Homo sapiens: one gene and its partners. The protein of the gene in region 2 interacts with the protein of the main gene of each other region in a pairwise test. Each region holds a gene or a part of one and is shown on either strand. Other genes may lie near its edges.

The links. The genes of interacting proteins can lie anywhere in the genome.
Region 1: the proteins of SLC18A1 (region 2) and SYNGR1 interact in a two-hybrid assay, tested with the Homo sapiens proteins (one large-scale study listed by BioGRID).
Region 3: the proteins of SLC18A1 (region 2) and UPK1B interact in a two-hybrid assay, tested with the Homo sapiens proteins (one large-scale study listed by BioGRID).

Annotation. Positions count from the first base shown.
Region 1 is NC_000022.11:39,352,024-39,356,765, reverse strand, and holds part of SYNGR1 (synaptogyrin-1), read right to left. Parts: intron 1-4,742. UniProt on the Homo sapiens protein: May play a role in regulated exocytosis. Modulates the localization of synaptophysin/SYP into synaptic-like microvesicles and may therefore play a role in synaptic-like microvesicle formation and/or maturation.
Region 2 is NC_000008.11:20,147,818-20,153,103, forward strand, and holds part of SLC18A1 (chromaffin granule amine transporter), read right to left. Parts: intron 2,928-5,286; coding exon 2,849-2,927; intron 1,911-2,848; coding exon 1,859-1,910; intron 254-1,858; coding exon 190-253; intron 1-189.
Region 3 is NC_000003.12:119,193,131-119,197,872, reverse strand, and holds part of UPK1B (uroplakin-1b), read right to left. Parts: intron 3,655-4,742; coding exon 3,475-3,654; intron 1-3,474. UniProt on the Homo sapiens protein: Component of the asymmetric unit membrane (AUM); a highly specialized biomembrane elaborated by terminally differentiated urothelial cells.

The sequences.
Region 1 (4,742 bases), on a different chromosome or scaffold from region 2:
CAGAACGCAGCCTCAGGTCTCCAGGCCAAGGCACTCCTCTGCGCCTACCCTGCCTCCCCTCCCACCTGACAGCTGGTTCTTCCGGTCTGGGTGCCAAGTGTGGCTCCCTCCAACAGCCCTGCCATCTGCCTCTCCCTTCCTCCCTCCCTCCTCCTCCTGGCTTCTCCTCCTCTCTTCCCTTCCTCTCCCAGCCTCTGTTTTTTCTCCCTGGGGCTCAGGCCCGCCCAACAGCTTTGCACACGCTGCTCATGTGGGACTCCCCACATGGCTGGGGACTCCCTGGAGCAGGGGCCATGGGTTCCGATCCCAGTGACTCCAGTTAACCTCTCTGGGCCTCAGCTTTTCATCTAAGGAGGGGATAACAAAACGCACCACAGCAGACTTACGGCAGGCCTTTTAAACTTGCATTCAGGCCAGGCAAGATGGCTCACACCTGTAATCCCAGCACTTTGGGAGGCCGGGGCAGGCGGATCACTTGAGGTCAGGAGTTTGAGACCAGCCTGGCCAACATGATGAAACCCTGTCTCTACTAAAAATATAAAAATTAGCCGGGTGTGGTGGCGGACATCTACTCAGGAGTCTGAGGCAGGAGAATCGCTTGAATTTGGAAGGTGGAGGCTGCAGTGAGCTGAGATCGTGCCACTGCATTCCAACTTGGGTGACAGAGCGAGACCCTGTCTCAAAAACAAACAAACAAAAATAACTTGCATTTTCTTTTCCTTTCTTTCTTTTTCTTTTCTTTTTTTGAAATGGAGTTTCACTCTTTTAGCCCAGGCTGGAGTGCGATGGCGCAATCTCGGCTCACTGCAACCTCCACCTCTCGGGCTTAAGCGATACTCATGCCTCAGCCTCCCAAGTAGCTGGGACTACAGACGCGTGCCACCACGCCTGGCTAATTTTTTGTAATTTTAGTAGAGATAGGGTTTCGCTATGTTGGCCAGGCTGGTCTCGAACTCCTGACCTCAGGTGATCCACCTGCCTCTGCCTCCCAAAGTGTTGGGCTTACAGGCATGAGCCTCCACACCTGGCCAAAATTTGCATTTTTATAAACTCTCGAGGCCTCCCCAAACCCAGGCCCTCCAATCCCATGTTACAGATGAGGCAACCAAGGCTGAAAGAGGTAGGGGTTTTCCAAGGTCCCGCTCTGATGGCCCTGCTCCTGATGCCCTAGGCTTTCTCAGGCTCTTGAGGCCGCCCCTGGGCTGTCCCTGGACATGAGGAAGTGCCCAAAACACAGCAGAAATCTATCACCTCCCAGCGGTCTCCTTGCAGCTGACCCTGTCCTAGACCTGAGAGAGAAGAAGCGGCGGAGCGGCCGGCCACAGGAGGTGAAGAGGTGAGAAAGACTCCAGGGTGGTCAGCAATAAATAACAAACAAGGGCCGTGGGCCCACCTTCCTGTCTAGGTGACAGGGCTGTGCCCGGTACTGGGAGAGGACAGGCTGGACGTGACCACGCATTTCCAGCCACAGAGCCCTCTCCAAACCAAGCTTCCACAGGAGCTTCCGAAATACCCTTGACCCTCTCTCCAGCTTCCCACTGCCCTCAGAGGAAGTCCAGCTTGTGAGTCTGTCATCCAAGCCTCTCCTGGGCCACCCCTTGGGAATTCCTTCTTGTAGTGACCCGAGCCTCTGGGACAGTGCTTCCCACTCAATCCTGTTCTCGTTATTGGAGCGAGAGTGCCTTGGGGTGGCACTGAGCACTCAGCTGGCACTGAGCAGGGGACTTGTGGAATGAACAAATGAACATCAGAACTGGCCAGAGGTTCTGTCTCTACCCTGGACCCTCTTCCCCAACAACCGCTGGTCCCAGAATTTTCCTGTGGCCCCATGGCTGGCACATGGCAAGTTGGTTGGGGGAGGCAAGGGGTCTTATCTTGAAACTGCTGTGTTTACAAAAAACGTTCAGCTTTTTTTTTTTTTTATTTGAGACAGAGTTTTGCTTTTGTTGCCCAGGCTGGAGTGCAGTGGTGTGATCTCAGCTAACTGCAACCTCCGCCTCCCGGGTTCAAGCGATTCTCCTGCCTCAGCCTCCTGAGTAGCTGGGATAACAGGCGACCGCCACCACGCTCAGCTAATTTTTGTATTTTAGTAGAGATGGGGTTTCACCATGTTGGCCAGGATGGTCTCGAACTCCTGACCTCAAGTGATCCACCCGCCTTGGCCTCCCAAAGTGCTGGGATTATAGGCGTGAGCCACCTCACCTGGCCAAGTTCAGCTTTTTTATTCAGTGTTCACTTGGGATGATGGGGGGTGGAGTGGAGGGGGTGAATAAAACCAGGGGTATGAAGCTGCCCCCCTCAGGCCACCCCTTGGTGCCATGGATATCCAGGCAGAGAACCCACAGGGAGTACACAGAATGTGGAGCCCAGCAGTCCGGGTTCAAACCAAGTCTCTGACAAGCCCAGGCCTTGAGCTAGCACAAGTCACTTCTCCAGGCTGAGCCTTAATTCTGTCATTTGTAAAACGGGGGGAAGATACCCACCCCACTTACAGAACCATGTGGTATTATGGCCAAAGCCCTTAAAAAATGAACCCTGAAAATGGCAACATTTCAAACATTTTATCATTTTCATTTTGTCAAAGTAGAGAATTAAAGAAACATTGACTGGGCACGGTGGCTCACACCTGTAATCCCAGCACTTTGGGAGGCTGAGGCGGGTGGATCACTAGGTCAGGAGTTTGAGACCAGCCTGGCCAAGATGGTGAAACCCCGTCTCTACTAAAAATTTAAAAAGTAGCTGGGCATGGTGGTGGGTGCCTGTAATCCCAGCTATTTGGGAGGCTGAGGCAGGAGAATCACTTGAAACCAGGAGGCAGAGGTTGCAGTGAGCCAAGATCGCGCCACTGCACTCTAGCCTGGAGACAGAGCGAGACTCCATCTCAAAAACAAAAAACAAACAAACAAAAAACTCATCTGCCAGCACTGATATTCATTCCCTATAGTCCATCTTAGCCCCCTGCAAAAAAGAATATAAACTCCAAATAAAAGGTGGTCCTTTCTATTAAATCAGTTTAGCTTCTTGCTGTAACTCCTTTTTTTCCCATCTGGCTTTAGAACAAAGAAATGAGTCACTGACAGGCGGCAGTCACCGCGCAACAGATCAGGCACTTCTGACCCAGCCCAGCCCAGTTCGGGTGGGAAGACTGAGGCACAGAGGGTGGGGAGGGGACACTTACTGAAGGTCACAGCTGTGGCCTGGGGGTGCCAGGAGTGGCAGCTGATCTGCCACTGGGGCGATGACACCAAGAGGTGAGAAAGCCTTAGTCAAGAGACAAGCCATGCCGGATGCAGTGGCCCACGCCTCGCCTCATCGTCCCAGCTGCTCACAAGGCTGAGGTGGGAGGATCACTTGAGTCCAGGAGTCTGAGACCAGCCTGGGCAACACAGCAAGATCCTGTCTCTAAAAAAATAAAAAAGAGACAAGCCAGGTCTTGGAGGCCCTGCTTCTGTGCAGGCTGACCCAGGGGCTCAGAGGGCTTGGGTTCCAGGGTGGGTCCAGGTTGGTGAGGCCCTGAAGCTTACATGATTTGGGGGCCCTCTTTTGGAAAAGCAACAGAAAAAAAAATCTTTCTTTTACAAATTTTACAAAAATCCCAGGTCCAGGCCGGGTGCGGTGGCTCACGCCTGTAATCCCAGCACGTTGGGAGGCCAAGGCAGGTGGATCACCTGAGGTCAGGAGTTCGAGACCAGCCTGGCTAACATGGTGAAACCCCATCTCTACTAAAAATACAAAAATTAGCTGGGCGTGGTGGTGTGTGCCTGTAGTCCCAGCTACTTGGGAGGCCGAGGCAGTAGAGTTGCTTGAACCTGGGAGGCGGAGGTTGCAATGAGCCGAGATGGCACCATTGTACTCCAGCCTGGGCAACAGAGCAAGACTCCATCTCAAAAAAAGAAAAAAAACAATCACAGGTTCATGTGCACATGCTGTTAGGGCCCCTCCAGGGCTGTGGTAGGGGTCTGGGTTGTCCAGGAGTCCTGGACAGGGTGACAAATTGTCCCTGTTTGTCTGGACTAAGGGCCTCTCAGAATGCTAAAGGCAGGAAGTTCCAGCACACCAGGATAAACGGGTCACCCTGGTCCTGGAGCTCAGCTTCACTTGCTCTGCCCTGTGGTGTGAGGGCCAAGAGCAGGCGCCAGCTGCATCCCCCGCAGCTCCTGATGTGTTTAAATGGCTCAGCACGCCACACAGTTTCGAAAAGACCAGAAGGAGACAGCACCCTATTCACTGCAGCCCTCCCTAAGTGGTGGTATCACATGATTACCACCCCCCACCAAACTTTTTCTGTTGTGGTAAAACACACGTAACATACAATTTACCATCTTCACCATTTCAGTGGTGTTAAGTACATTCCTACCGTGCAACCATCACATGTGATTTTTATACTTTCCAATAATTGGCAGGTATTACTCTGATCAGGAAAAAAAGCTACTTTTAAAGGTGTCAATCAGCCTGTATCAGACACCTCTTGGTTCGACAAAGGTAGTGAGCGCCTTGTATCCACGTGTGTGAGCAGGACTGGGAGGCTGTGGGGTCGTTTGAGCATTGGTTGGTCCAGGTGACCTTTGTGTCCTTTCCAATCCTGACATTCCAGGATTCTGGATTCTTCCCTGCCCCAGGGGGAGAACTACTCTTTGGAGACAGGAAGACCTAGGCTCAAATGCTCGTCTGCCACTTACATGCTTAGTGACTTTGGGCCAGGCACTTGGCCTCGCTCGCTGAGCCGCAGCTTCCTCTAGTGT
Region 2 (5,286 bases):
TCTTCTGCCTCGGACTAACACCTGTTCCAGGTGGGAATTACGAGCTCATCTCTCCACAACCCTGCCAGCTGCCCTCCTGATCCTTCTGCCTCTGCACCTACCTCCTCTGATGAGAAAAGGGGGAGGAAAGGCATCAGACCCAAAGCCAACATGCAGGGGCTTATTGTTTTCTTTGAGGGCACTTCTTACCTATGGCAAGGCCAAGCCCTGCATTGGGGCCAATGAGACCAAAAATATTGTGAGCCAGAGGAACCTGCATGGGGAAGGAGGAAGAGTCATCAGGACTCCAGATGGGTCAGGTGGGAGCAAGGTTCAAAGAGTTTTCACATGAAATGCATTTATTCAGAGTGCACTATTGGCCACATACATCATCCTCCTGCACTCTCAGACTTTCTCATGGAAAAGAATCTATACCTCCATTTTAAGGATATGAAAACTTGACCAGCGCTGTTGTGTTTATTTATTGCTCTATCCAGAGTTACAGATCTAATGAGTGGCAAGATCAAGTTTGGACCTCAGACTTGGCTCCATTATGCTCTAACGAGGGTCTTCCTCTGTTCCATGGATACTTTCTCCCCTTCCTCTACCCCTCTTCACCTAAACATACACTCCTGGTCTCATTCTTCATGGAATAAAGTTGCCTCTGTTTTCCATTATGGACATCACTGAAAGGTTTCATTTAGACTTCTAACTTGGTAGCTGTTGGAAAAAGAAGATAGAGAAGAGGCCCCAACAACCAGTTAGCTGTAAGCTAGAGGGGGCAGGTGGTGTGGCTTGGGTCCCCTGTCAGGAAGCTTGTGAGACTCATTCCCATTGCCCTCCCAATCCCCCAACAAAAACCCCTTCTTCCCTCTTTTTCAGGTTCCTTACCTCCCTCTCTGGGTACCTGCCATTCAAACCTGCTACCCCAGGACACTCACCCCTTAAGGGTTTAGCATACCGTTTAGATGCTGCTGGCTGATAACAATTTTTAGGGTTCATGCCTCAAGAAATGTTTATAAATTATCAATAGTATTGGCTGAGATTCACTATGGGCTCACCATGTGCCAGACACTGTGGTTTATTTGGATTACCTTGACAACCCTGTGGACACCATCAGAACCCTCTCTACATAGATGAGGATGCTGAGCACACGGAGATGAAGTAACCTGCTCAAAGTCACATGCATAGAAAGTGGCAAAACCTGCCATGGAACCCGGATCCCATGCTCCTGCTCAGGACCTCCAGCTGGTCTTGAGCACAGTTTACAGTGCCTTGTAGCCCTGTTCTTCTCTCCCTCAGGCCTAGGAGGTTTGTGTGTTTCTCATCCCCACTGGGGAGAGGAGGAAATGAAGGCTTTGAGAACTTGAGGGGGATTCTTGGAAATGGAAAAGTCCTTCTTTCTTTCTTCTTCTATCAAGCCTCTGGTGCCAGAGACTGGGACATAGATGATGGTTCCCTGGGGATTTATGAGGCTCTGTCAGGGTGGGATGAGTAAATGAAGTCATAAAACGCACCATTTTGCCATCCCCAGAAATGGATACCAACATGTATCACTTCATATGCCCACATGTACAGCCTCAGACCTCCGGCTCCAGCTGCCCTACAGCCCTCTTCCTCTCCTTTCCCACTTCCCCTCAAAGGAAAGCCACTGCAGCTGGTGGCCTCTTCCCCCGTGCTAAATTCCTGCCTATTCAGAAACAGTCTTTCTGACAGTCCTTGCCAAGCCATCTCTGCTCATCTTAAAGGAAATTAGTCTTTAAATGTCTGTGTCTTTCTCTCTCTCTCTCTCCCTCTCTCTCTCTCTCTCTCTCTCTCTCTGTCTGTCTGTCTCTCGCTCTCTCTCTCCTTCCCCTCCCCCAGGTCTTCTTATACTTACACAGAGCAAGCTGGTACCTACTACCAGCATCCCGATTAGGGAACACAGCCACCTGGAAGAAAAAAGCCATCATCAAACACCACTAGGGGAGAGCTCCCCTCCACCTGTACCCCATCACCGCCATGCTGACCTGTCCCACCAGCCCTAATCCCAGCAACCCCTTAGGACCTGAGGACAGCATCCCTACATGACCAGTTTGTACCCAAATGAGCTCTCTCCCTGCCCTTTCCTTGTCTCCCCTGGCTCCATCCCTTTTTCTATAGAAAGGCAGAGGAGGTGCCGTGGGACACACTCTTCCTTCCCTTACAGGAGGAATCAGCTGACTCAGGAGGCACTTGTTCCTTAGAAGTAGCCCTCAAACTTAACTCATGCTGTTGCCCAGCTCAGACTGCCTCCTACCTGTCCTATTTTATTTGGTCCTTGAGGTCTGTCTCAAAAAACACAGAAAGTACCAAACTTCTTTCCTTCTCTGATGTCCTATGGCAGTGCTTCTAAAATCTTGATGCTAAACTCCAAAGATAAAATTAAAGCTGTCCTTATTGTAGTGAAGGGACAGAATGGAGACTCATAGCTCTTGGCCCCCAACCCTTCCTCCTCAGTGGCCTCTGGGGTGCCTCTATAGAACTCCTTAGGATTCCACAGAACATAATTTGAAAACTACTTTCCCAAAGTACTGCATTTTTCATAGCTGTTCTCTGTTGTGGTTATTTTATCTCCTCAACTGGACAGCAAATGGATGGAAAGTAAGGGGTGCCCCTCATGTATCCACTGCCTCTTCTATAACAATCAGCTCAGAGCTCAGGACAATCCATTCTCCATACCACCCTCACCACTCACTCACTGCCCATCCTCCCAGTGGGAAGTTTTTATCGGTGTGTACTCATCCTAAACTTTCAACCGTATGGAAGCTGTTCATCATTCCAAGATCAGGAACGGGCGCTCTTCCATCTTACATTTCTACTGTTCGTCCCAGATCCCGAGGCTACATACCGACCCATCTTGTTGGCCAACACACCAAAGAGGTTGGTGCCAATGAGGTAGGACACACTGGCAGGCAAGAAAGCTAGACCTGTGGAAGGACACAGATCCTTACCTTAGGACATGTCCAATTTACTCTAAAATGCCTTGTCTCGTACAAGACACTGAAGTCCACCCCTGTAACCTTCCAAGATCCCCAAACCACTTTGTTTTATGATCTGGGGACCTTTGTGCAAACCCACAGTAGTTGCCATAGGACCCCCACACCTCTCCTTTCTTCAGGAGCAAGGCTTTGTTTAGCCTCAGTACTTTTCTTTTTGTTTTCTTTCTTTTTTTGAGACAGGGCCTCACTCTGTCACCCAGGCTGGAGTGCAGTGGTACAATCTCAGCCCACTGCAGCCTCGACCTCCTGGGATCAAGTGATCCTCCCAGCTCAGCCTCCCAAGTGGCTGGGATTACAGATGAACACCACCACACCTAGTTGTTTTTTTTTGTTTTTTTTTTGTTTGTTTGTTTGTTTGTTTGTTTTGTAGAGATGGAGTCTCGTCATGTTGCCCAGGCTGGTCATGAAATCCTGCCTGCCTTGGCCTCCCAAAGTGCTGGGATTACAGATGTGAGCCCCCACACCTGGCCTAGCCTCAGTACATTTAATGTGCTTCCAGCTCCCCACTTAGATTCCTAATGAATGGCCCTGATGAGCCGTTCTCATGTATAAAATACCCTTGATTATCAGCGTGAGAATGTGAGCTTCAGAGGTGGTGTGGTTGGGTGCCACATACCCATACATAATTCCTGGGAAGTGAATTCCTGCCTTGCTACTTACCAGCCCTTCTATTTCTCTGAGAGGGATCTTGGATTAATTACTAAACCTTTCTGAGCCTTGGTTTCCACATCTGGAAAAAGCAAAGCTATGATTATATCATACCGGGTTACAATGTGGAGCAAATTAGGTAATGCATGCAAAAGTATTTTGTAAATTGAAGTCCTGAACACATGGCTTTTTGTGACAGTAGAGGGAAGTGTTCAGGAAACATGGGCTTTGGAGCCACACAAAGCTCCAAATTTTGCATTCAAACCATGGCTTGATGACTTGTTAGCTCTGTGACTTTGGACAATTTACTTAACCTGTCTGAGTCTCTTCCATTCATTCATTCATTCATTCATTCATTTTAACAAACTTTGACCATGTGTCAGGTATTCTGGGGGCTGGGAATACAGCGGTGAATAAGACAAACAAAATTCTAGCCCTCAGCTAGCTTACACTCCAGGGGAGGGAGACATACAATGAACAAGTAAACAAATACACAAAAAAGATAATTTTGAAAAGTGTTGAGTTATGTGCATGAAATTTAATGTGGTGATATAGCAGAGCAACTCAGAAGGGCTATCTGGGATTTCAGGGTTGGGGAAGGCTTCTTTGGGGAAGTGACATTCAAACTGAGACCTTAATAACCAAAAGAGAGCACTTCAAGCAGAAAATAAAAAGCACCTAATGGAAATTAAGATGTCTTAAAGAAATCATTTAGTTTGCTCTAAGAATAGAAAGGATATCTGTGTGCCTGAAATATAAGAGGAAAGTGGAGGGTGAGAAAATGAAGGTCCTAGAAATGAATCTGGTTATTCCAAGGGCAATGGAAGCTTTGGAAGGAAATGACATAATTGGATTTATATTTTCTAAAATCCCCTAGAAGAATGGGTTCATGGGACAAGAGTGGAAGTCAGACTATTTGCAGAATCCAAGAGAAAAGTGATGGTGCCTCAGATTAGAAGTCATGGTGGAGAGAAGTGAACAAAATGGTAGGTTTTGGAGGTAAGTTGGTGACATTTTCTGTTTGATTGGGTAAAGACATAGCGGGAGTGAGGAGGGGAAGTGAGAAATCAGGGATAACCTAGGTTTTTGTCTTAATCGATTGGGTAGCTGGAGATAGGGAAGACTGGTTGAAGTGCAAGAGCATGGGGGGAACGTGAGAGGTTTGAAGTGACTGGTAGATATTCAAGCAGAGCTGTCAGGCAGTTAGATACTTAAAGCCATGCAAATGGATGGGATTGCCTATGAAAGAACAAATAAAGAATAGAGATCCAAGGACTGAGCCTTGGGGGACTCCTATCTTTAGACATTAGCAAAGAAGGCAGAGATAGCACAGGAGATGAGGAGTAGCCAATGAAGTAGGTGAGGGGAGATGGAATCGAGAAGAGGAGTCTGGCCTTTGATCAGGGCTGGGATGCTCCAACCATAATTAAAGAGAAGACTGGGAATGTGGGTTCAGATGCAGGATATTGGGTACACTTAGTGATGGAAACACGACAGTTCCATTCTCATTGCTTCCATTTTATCATAGCTTCTGTTTTCTCAATGAGTAGGAGGCAAAGTCAACCACTGAGAATGATGATGGTGAAGGGACGGGAGTGCATATGGGGCTAAAATGAAGAAATATAAAATAGTCATTTTG
Region 3 (4,742 bases), on a different chromosome or scaffold from region 2:
TATCATCTCAACAAAGCCTTTCCTGACAGTGACAGAGAAAAAGACCCTTTCTCCATCCTACTCTATATACTCACCCTGCCTTATTTCTGCTCATGGCCTATTTGGGCCTGGAATTTTATCATGTATTTGTTTGGTAACATGTTTATTTTCTGTCTCCCATGCTAGAATGCAAGCTCCATGAGGGCAGGGATTTTATGTTGTTCACTGTTGAATTTCTAGAACCTAGAACAAGTGCTTGGCACATAGTAGACACGTAATAAACATTTACAGAATGAATGGAACATTAATGTTTACAATAGTATAATTTGCAACACACTTGATGGTTCACAAAACACTCCCATATCTGCTACTCCTTGGTCCTCCCAACAATCCTGGGAGGTGGTCGTTCATCTAATAATATATATATAAGGGCCCACTTATGCCAGGTGCCAAGTACTGGCTGGGCATTTAGCTGTGGCAAACAGAAATGGGCCTTGCCTTCATGAAGCTCACAGACAGAAGCCCCATTTTTTTCACCATCATTTAGTGCCTTTTCGTGATGCTAGTCAATTTAGTGGTACTTTACTTGATCTTCCTTCATTTTATTATAACATTTTTGAGGTATAGTGATCACAATTTGCACATAGCATTTCTGAGTCACATAAACCATAACATAGAATATATATATATTTGCATCTGACATGCTGTGTGAAATTCTAGTTAATTTCTACTATTAACAAGCTTATAGTGACTTCCCTAATTTTGTTAGTCTTCACAGCTATAGCAGCACATTTGTGCATTGTAGATCCTGAAAACCTACAATATGGTTGTCAAAAAGTGAAGCCTGGGCAACACAGTGAGACCTCATCTCTACAAAAAATAAAATTAGCCAGGCCTGGTGGTACATGCCTGTAGTTAGTTGGGAGGCTGAGGTGGAAAGGAGGATCACTCGAGCCCAGGAGCTTGAGGCTGCAATAAGCTGTGATTGCAGCATGGCACTCCAGCTTGGGTGACAGAGTGAGACCCTGTCTCTCAAACAAAACAAAACAAAAACCAGGCTGGGCACGGTGGCTCACTCCTTTAATCCCAGCACTTTGGGAGGCTGAGGTGGGTGGATCACAAGGTCAAGAGATCGAGACCATCCTGGCCAACATGGTGAAACCCCATCTCTACTAAAAATACAAAAATTAGCTGGGTGTGGTTGCGTGCACCTGTAGTCCCAGCTACTTGGGAGGCTGAGGCAGGAGAATCACTTGAACCTGGGAGGTGGAGGTTGCAGTGAGCCGAGATAGCGCCACTGCACTCCAGCCTGGCGACAGAGTGAGACAGGCTCCATCTCAAAAAAAAAAAAAAAAAAAGAAAAAGAAAAACCATTCACTATTCACTTCTTTATTCACCCATCTATCAAACGTCGGTGCTTGCTTTGTGCCAGGCATTATGCTAAGTACTAAAAATATCAAATCTGTAGAATCAAATAATACATAGTCCTCAAGGAGACTCAGAAAAAATAGACTTGGGAACAAATATAGTTCCAGGTAGTGAATGCAATAATAGAAATAAAGTATACCAGGTCTTGGGGTAGCACCTTTTTCTTGGTGGAAAAGGATGGCAAGAGGGGACTTAGCAAGACCTATGAGTCAGGGAGAATGGTGGTGTGTGGGAATCTGGGAGGCTGGGCTAGGGAGAATCAGAAAGGACTAATAGATAAGAGATTATGTCAAAGGAGCAGAATGAGTGAGGTTGAGAAACAAGGAGCACAGGAAGTCAGGAACAGAGAGAGGAATTTCAGAATTCAGGAATTTGGTGGAGGAGTAGGGCTGAGTGATGATGAATTTGTAGTTGGTAGGTAGTGGAGGTGGAGTTGTTAGAACAGATAAAGCCAGGGAACTGTAGGGTAGTGGAGGTGGAATTGTTAGAACAGATGAGGCCAGGGAACTGTAAGGGAACGTGTTAGAAGCATTGTCAAAATGGGTGTGGAGGTCCCAAGGTAGAGGAAAATAGTTCATTTGTATCTTTTCCTCAATTTCTCATCTATCTAAACTTGAGAAAAGCTTCAGGTTTGTCCTCATAACTAAAATATTATATGTGCTAGGAAAAAAGGTATAACTATGAAATAAACTGGTTATCTGAAGACAAATGTCCTATTTTTATCCCTTTCAAAGAGGTAATACAGTTTGTACACAATTACAATCCAATCAAGATTTGTTTGCATGAGCAGTTCCAGTGTTGAAATATCAAAAGCCTTTTATAGTCCTGAGAATAATTATATTGTACACCTTGATTATAAGCAGCAAATTTAATTTTTAATAACAGTCTGAATATAATTGATTAAAACAATGCCAGACAATGTTGCAGTAAAGCTCAATGAGGGTTGCTCTGGACACTGCTGCAAAATAATCTAGAACACTCCCATGCCCTTTTCTGGAATAATGCATCCAGTTCTAGTCCAGGCACCCTGTCAGCAACAGTGCCATGTCCCTCAATCTGAACATGCAGTTTGTACTGCTCCCAAACAAAACAGCCTGACATTTCTCAATTATTTAATGAGCTGGTACACAACTAGCTTTCCTTAAAGAGGTAACTCCCTGAGCAGAGCACAGCGTTTCAGTGTACAGGGTCAGCAGATGCTGACTACAAGTACCTGGAGGTTCTCATCAGGGCTTTTGGGGAATATTAACAAGTCTTCACTGGCTTAGAGTCTGTGCTTGAAGGCAGAAAACTCATGTTTCAAAAGCCAGAGAGTTTTTTGAAAAGACGGACATTTACTAGTTGTGTGACCTCAGCAAGGTATTTATTAGTATCTCTACGTCTAAGTTCTTCGTTTGTAAAACAGGGATCCTACTGGCACCTACTACTGAGCATTAAAGGAGATAGTGTATGTGTGGCACTGGAAACAGTGTTTGGCATTTAGTAAGTACACAATAAATGTTAGTTTTCATGATCGTAATCACATTATCCTCATCAGCCTGGAAACTTTTTCAAAAACTATCTGTATGTAAACTACCTTCCATCCAAATCACCAACCTAATGTTTATTAAGACTGTCCTACTTTACCATTGAATAAGGAATGTGGATGTGTAATTACTACATTTATCCTCAGCAATAGTCATTGCTTTGGAATTGGCAAAACATTCTTTTTGCACATCATCCCTTCCAATTTACATTTTGCAAAACTAGAGCAAAACTTTGTTTAATGTAAATATTTCTTGACATACCAATTCCATACATTGTGCAAATTGTCTTCATTTAAACAAAGTTGGGTTCTGCTATTGCAATTCTCATGTTTTGTTAATTTTATTAAAATGTAAATTTGCCCCTATCAGTCCTGGTTTAGCATTTGCAGTTTATTAACAGAGAAGGAAATAGTTAACATGAGGTTTAGGGAAAAGAATGTAGAATTCCTTACTGAAAGACTATTTCCTACAGTTGACCAATATTTTTCTCATAAAGAGCAGCAGAACCTCCTGGGAAGTCTTGGGAGGAGAGAGGACTCACCTGATTGTGATAAAAACCAGGCACGCCTAGTTTACAAGCCTCCAGGTTGAGAGGTTCTTTAAGATTGTTCATAACACAGCATTGACGAGGCCAGGGATAGTCAGCATCATTATTCTCAGTCCGGAAGGCAGATGTGTATTTTTGCCAGTCTGATGGACCATTTACGCCACAGCAATTGTCCTGTCAGCAGATGAGAGATACAAAATTCTCTTTCGTGGTCCCTACTAGAGCCATCAATGTAGCAACTGAAATTTTATAGAGAAAGAAGATACGGAAAGTGTACCATATCTTACATTTACTAAGAAATCCCCAAATGACAGCTGAAGGTATTGATAACTTACAACTTACATTTTACAGTTTGTAAAAGAATTTTTACACTTCCTACTTTACTAGTCATTAGTGAACCCTGTAGCCATTGACATGTTACTTAAACTGTCTAAGCCTCAGTTTCCTTAACTGTAAAATTGGAATATAGTACCTATCTCATAGAGTTTTTTTAAGGATTAAATGAGTTAATATACTTAATGTGCTCAATACAGTGCCTGGCTTATGGTAAACTCTTAATAAATGTTAATTATGATTGATACTGTACTAATATATTGATATAACAATGTGAGAGAGGAATAATTATTCTGATATATCAGAGCAAATTGAGAATCATAAAATTAAAGATTATATCAAAGCAAATTGAGAATCATAAAATTAAAAATTTTAGTGGTGAAGTTATGAGTAATTGTTCTTGTTTTGCTTTTCTATACATTTAAACATTTTTTAGAGTAATTAGGTATTATTTTTATAATGGGAGAAAATAAAGTGAAAAAAATAACCTGGTGACACAGAGCTATGTCTCCACATAGGGGAGGGAGACCAATTAATACATCCCTTACACTCTGGATAGAATTGAGAATAGAGGACAAAACACAATTCATATAGCTTTCCTTCTTTGTTATCAATTCTCCTAAAATCCTTCAAAAGGGAGGAAGTTAAAACCATGGGTATCTTGGAACTTTTAGAATGAATGTATTCAAGTAAACTTGATGATAAATCAACCATCTTTAAAGGATATACAATTTTGTCACTATGTTATGGGAAATATCTAACCAAGAAAAATAATTATTCTGCATTCTGGGAAAAATGGTTAAGTCTAAGCCAGGCTTATTTCAAACTAGGATTTAGTGGGCACAGAGAAGATTTAAGGGTCCAAAATTGAGCTTTGTAGCACTCCAAGCTTCAGATTTGGGTAAAGAGTGACAACCCAGCAGAGGAGA